Linked DNA regions of Homo sapiens: region 1 is linked to region 2. Evidence: fine-mapped expression QTL. A gene starts in region 2. The other region holds a variant in brackets. All regions are shown on one strand. Distances are between the middles of the regions.

Region 1 (2,500 bases), 30 kb before region 2:
CCAGTTTATCTACCTTCTGGCTACAATGTGACTTAACTTCTCTGAGCCTAATTTCCTGCTTATAAAATAGAGATTATATCACCTACCCTGACAGGACGTTGTAAGGATTGAGATAATATATGTAAAGTACTTTAGTACAGTATTGGAACCTACTAAAGTACTCAATACATATTAATATCATTATAATGACTAAAACTACTTAAGTTGCCAAATATAAAAATTACAATTTTACATTATTTTAATTATAGTGACTAATTATATTAATATAACAAATGTAAAATTAAAGAAGAGATTGACCGTTCCCAGAATTTTGGATTAGAGATGTGTAACCCAGTTCTCCCTCAGGGTCAACTTCCCTAAAATCAGAACAGGCAGCTGTTTCATTGGTAGAAACACCCACTTCCAGCCCTTACTTGTGTACTTCCCCAGCCCAGCCTTGTAGCCTCGTTTCAGAGCCTGACATCCGGCTCTGGCTGACTGGCACTGAAGTCCCCAAAGCAGAGGGGCATACCAGACGACTGGGGGGTTGGTGGAGGATCTTCGCAAGGCAAGAACACATCTGCTGCATCCGGGTCCCCAAGGTCAATAAGTTCTACTTGCTCCAGTGTGTCCACATTCACTTCCATGGATGAGATACTACCTATGGGGGCTGCGGATCAAGAAGTGGGCAAGTCAGGAGGACCCAAGCTGCACACCAGGACAGTGAGAGTTACATGTCAGGTCCCAAGTTAGAAGCATAGAGGGCCAAGAAAACCAGAGGGGAGAGAGTGCCACAAGATTCAGGACCCACAGGACATCCTCCCTACCCTACCCCAGTCCCTCTTCTCAGGACTTGGGACTTACGTCTCTGCGACTCGAGATGCAGATGGGACAGAGGAAAGACAAACTCTGTCTCTGGCTGTAAAATGTCCTCGAAGAATTTTTGCCGCTCCCGAAGGCGGAGCTGCTGGCGCTCCAGGGCGGCCCGAGGATTTGGGTCCATGTCAGCTCCTGCGGGTAGAGGAGCAAAACAAGTACAGCTGCAAAGTCGAAAGAGAAGACAGAGGGGACCTGGGCTTGGGGCGCCCCACTGCAGCCAGCATCCCAACAGTGGGGCCCCTGGCTCCGGCCTGGACACCTCTGCCCTTGGTGACCTCTTTCCCCTTCCCTGAAACCAAGTGTGTCCCACAAACCAAGTCTCATGCAGAGGCGGGGCTTGCCCTAAGCTCCACAAAGGGGATGCCA[G/A]TTCCAGGCACCACAAGAGAGATACTCTGTATTCAGGGAACACAGCCAATGCCCAACTCTCCATATCATGCCCTCCTGAGAGGGGTTGGAGGGATTGGTTCAGCACAAATGGAGGAGGTACGTTTTCCCCTTAATTGGCCCCGCTTGCCTCAGAAGGCCAGGGACAGGATAGGATAGAGACAGAGATCTCAGGGTGGAGGGTTCCCTTCCTCCAGTGCTGCAGCCCACCCCTTCCCATCCTTCAAAACCCAGACAAAGGCTAAAGCAACTCCTCCCGCGCCCCTCCTTTTCTCTCCACCCACACAAACACGTACACACGCATGTGCCATCTACCCCAAACCCTTGCTCTGAAGTCACAGGCCTGACTTCCAGACTAGGCTCTGCCCCTAAGGAAATCACCTTTCTGGTCTTAGTCTCCCCATCTGAAAATGGCATAACCAACCTACCTGCCTCAAATACAAGACCCTGCTTGTGAAGGTGAGCTATTTAGGAGACTACCATCTTTCCTTTGAACTCCAACAGCTCTTTATGCGTCCCCCTCCTGGGACACATCTCACTGACTTATCTCCCCATTAGTCAGTGAGGAGCAATTGGAAAGGCGGGTTCTGGGTCCAGTTCAGAGCAGGCCTCCTGACCCCTAGGGCTGAGAAGCTGAGACCCTGCCAGAGCACTGAGGCTATGGGCCAGCCCAGGTCGGTGCATTCATTCCCATTCGCTCATCTCCTTCCCGGCGTTCTGCTCTGAGCCCATCACCAGAGGCAAGGGAGTTTCTAGCTTGAGGATCAGACGTCATCCTCCGCAGACTGCCTTCCCCACCTCATCTGCACCCAGCGTATCCCAGACCCTGGCCAGCTCCACGGGCGCCACAGAGGTGGAGAGGGACCCAACCCCGACTGGCCAAGGCAGGGCCACGGAAGTCTGGGGAGACCGTGCGGCCGCGGGCTGGCGGCGGAGGAGCGAGGCGCTGACGCCGATTCCCGGGAAAGGCTCTTAGAGCTGCCGCCCAGGTCACAACGCTAAAAATACCCAGGGCCCCTGGAGCCTGTGCTCCAGCAGCGAGGAGGGGGAGGGAGAGGCCAAGGTGGGGGAGCTGACGGGGGCCAGGGGCTCTGGGACACCCCCTCTCTTTTCCCCTCCCCCTAACCCCACCGATCTCACGAGACTGAAGGAGCTGTCCCCCGGGGGGCCGCGGAGCCCAGAGCTGGAGAAAGGGAGTTGTTTACGCGACCTATAGGTACTGGAAAGGGGGTGAAGAGATTTGGGGGCAGGAGGCTGC
Region 2 (3,012 bases):
AAAAAGAGAAAACATAAGCAAGTGTCCTGCCCATAGCTATTCGATTGTAAATAACAAAAAGAATCTGAGAAATATATCTCCAGTATTCAAAAACTATGGTCTAATTCAGCAAATAGGTCAATGAAATCATTGATAAATGAGTTAAATTTCAATATCTCTGTTGTTTCACTTTTTCACCTTCTTCTTACTGTTTAGTGTAAATGAAAATACAAACATTAATGTTGGTATTATACTTGTTTATCCATTACAACCATAGGTTGGCTATAAATGGAGGGGTTAGGCAAAATCCAAGAAAAGCATACTATAAGAAGCAACTCACTAATAGAAGTTACAATAAAGAGTATTATAGGATTCTATTATTTGTTGATTTCTATCAGTAAAATTTATAATACAAACACATATACATTTTGCTTCAGAGAGCCAATTATTAAACATTTACAAGTACACACACTGTTTCCCCTCCACTAGAATGTAAGCTTGAGGGCAAGAATTTTCTGTTATTCTAGCACTTAGAAAAAGCACCTGGCAAGGCCAGGCGCGCTGACTCATGCCTGTAATCCCAGCACTGTGGGAGGTGGAGGTGGGCGGATCACAAAGTCAAGAGATCGAGACCATCCTTGCTAACATGGTGAAACCCCATCTCTACTAAAAATACAAAAATTAGCCGGACGTGGTGGCGGGTGCCTGTAGTCTCAGCTACTTGGGAGGCTGAGGCAGGAAAATCGCTTGAACCCAGGAGGCGGAGGTTGCAGGGAGCCAAGATCTCACCACTGCACTCCAGCCTGGCGACAGAGTGAGACTCTGTCTCAAAAAACAAAAAACAAAAAAAGAGAAAGAAAAGAAAAAGCACCTGGCATGTAGCAGGCGCCCAGTCAAAACAGGCGACATGACTGAATGGATGAGCATGGTTTGGGAATCCCTGGTTTCATGGGTTGACTATCAGACCTTGGTTAGGTTTCCAGCCCACTATGATCTAGCTGGGCTAGATCTAGTGTGGCCTTGAGTAGATTATTCAACCTCTTTGAACCCTGGCTTCCTCATTTAAAAAGAGGGGATAATCCTCTTACCCCACAGGGAGGTTGTGACAATGCACACAGCTGTCTGTCGCCTATTGTCTATATTTCTTTCTCACCCTCTACCCCTCACCTCTGCCACATACACTCCTTGGAGACCCAGCCCTGCTACTGTCACATTTCAGTGATGTCACAGCTGCAGGTGGTACAGAGCCAGCACCACCATCTGATGCCCAGCCTGAGTGCTGGCTGAACTGAGAGGAACAGGGTTGGTGCCTGGCACTGGTGTTGCTCCATTCATCTCTGAGGTCTCACAGCCCCAGCATGAGTCCATCAGCAAAGAAGAGGCCCAAGAACAGCAGGGTTTCCAAGGTCAGACTTGGGACTAGACCCTGGGGGTGAGTCCCTAGAGGGGACCTTAACAAAGAATCCACCATGCCAAGGAAAGGGGCTTTCCAGCATGGGAGAAAAGGAAAAGGTGAAGGGTGAAGGGAGGTCAGGAGAGTTAAAATGGTCTCCCAGTTCTGTCCCCAGACCAAGATGACAAAACTCCCAGCCTAGGATTGGTCAAACCATGCTCAGCCAAATGAAGAGGCACATGGAGGAGTTCAGGAGGATTCCTCCAGTGCCTCACTCTGTCGCCCAGGCTGGAGTGCAGTGGCGAGATCTCAGCTGACTGCAGCCTTCACCTCCTGGGTTCAAGTGATTCTCCTGCCTCACCCTCTTGAGTAGCTGGGACTACAGGCGCATGCCACCACACCTCGCTAATTTTTGTATTTTTTTTTTTGGTAGAGTCAGGGTTTCACCATGTTGGCCAGGCATCTCAAACTCCTGACCTCAAATGAGCCACCCACCTCGGCCTCCCAAAGTGCTGGGATTACAGACATGAGGCACCACACCTGGCTGATTCCTCTGGGTTTATGTCTCTCTTATCCTCTGTCCCTCAGATGCAAGATGAGAAACTGCGGGACGAGACAGAGCAGCCTGTGAGCAAAGTAATTGAGCGGAACCGTCTGAGAACGGTGAGACGCCCTGTTTTGGCCCCAGCTTGGGGAAGCTCATATACTCATGCAGTACTGCCCCTGGTTGCCAGGCTGAGTGGCCCAGGGGAGCCAGCAGGCCGGCCCTTGGCTGAGCGGAGCCAGAGGCAGGCAGGGGAGAGGGAGGCTGTCCAGGAAAGCTGAAGCTTCTATTTACCTGGTTTCTTGACCCTGGCAGGTGTTAAAAAACTTGTCGCTCTTGAAGCTACTCAAGAGCTCAAACCGCCGGATCCAAGAACTGCATAAGCTGGCCAAAAGGTGTTGGCATTCACTGCTCAGTGTTCCAAAGATTCTCCGCATCTCCTCTGGGTAAGCTGGGGCCTGGCCCCCATAATGGACCCAAATGCCGTCTTTCTGGGAACAGGCATTGTGCTAAGGCATTTAGAGAACAAGTCTAATTTTCACAAAGCCTCTGTGAGAGAGGTATTTATTAACTCTATTTTACTGCTGGAGAGCTGAGGCTGAAGAGGTGAAGTGACTTGTCTCATTCAGTTAACTCAACTGATAAGTGGCAGAGCTAGGATGTGAAGCCATTCCTGTCTGATATTAGAGCTGTGGCCATAACAATGGTTGTAATCATCCAGTTGTGGTGCTCACTTCACCCTGGGGCACTGAGACAGACAGGTTACTCCTCCTCCTCCTCCCCTGCAAGTCAATATAACCCAGAGAGTCACCTGCAGACTGACCCCTGAAATCTGAAGATTAATCTTGCTGAGGCTTGGTTTCTTTATTAATTTATTTTTATTTTTATTTTTTTTTACCATGCCTCCGAGACAAGTTCAAACCGTTTCCTCATAAGTCACATGACAGTATTAAGAAAGCTAACATTGATTGGTGCCTGCTAAGTACCATCCTACAGTGTTAAGCACTTAAGAATTTTCCCATTTAGTTTATTCTTCACAACAATCCTGTTAGGTAGACAGAATTATCCTAGTTTTACAGATAAGGAAGCTAAGGCT

Evidence for each region. PIP is the estimated chance that this variant, and not a neighbour inherited with it, causes the effect.
Region 1: its variant is fine-mapped to the expression of TP53TG5 in putamen (GTEx, PIP above 0.99).

The regions. Positions count from the first base shown.
Region 1 is chr20:45,406,950-45,409,449 of GRCh38, reverse strand. It overlaps DBNDD2 (dysbindin domain containing 2), which reads right to left and starts at 1,161. Exons shown (of 3, transcript NM_001048225.4): 1 at 844-1,161; 2 at 512-649. The coding sequence starts at 982. It overlaps SYS1-DBNDD2 (SYS1-DBNDD2 readthrough (NMD candidate)), which reads right to left. Exons shown (of 6, transcript NR_003189.2): 4 at 844-990; 5 at 512-649. It overlaps LOC107985404 (a long non-coding RNA gene), which reads left to right and starts at 1,561. Exons shown (of 5, transcript XR_007067608.1): 1 at 1,561-1,701. RefSeq lists an enhancer at 2,024-2,500. The variant G/A (reference allele first, on the strand shown) is at 1,225.
Region 2 is chr20:45,376,562-45,379,573 of GRCh38, reverse strand. It overlaps TP53TG5 (TP53 target 5), which reads left to right and starts at 1,249. Exons shown (of 5, transcript NM_014477.3): 1 at 1,249-1,385; 2 at 1,961-2,035; 3 at 2,232-2,362. The coding sequence starts at 1,338. The region is part of intron 3 of SYS1-DBNDD2 (SYS1-DBNDD2 readthrough (NMD candidate)); the gene reads right to left. It also overlaps a transcript of SYS1 not described here.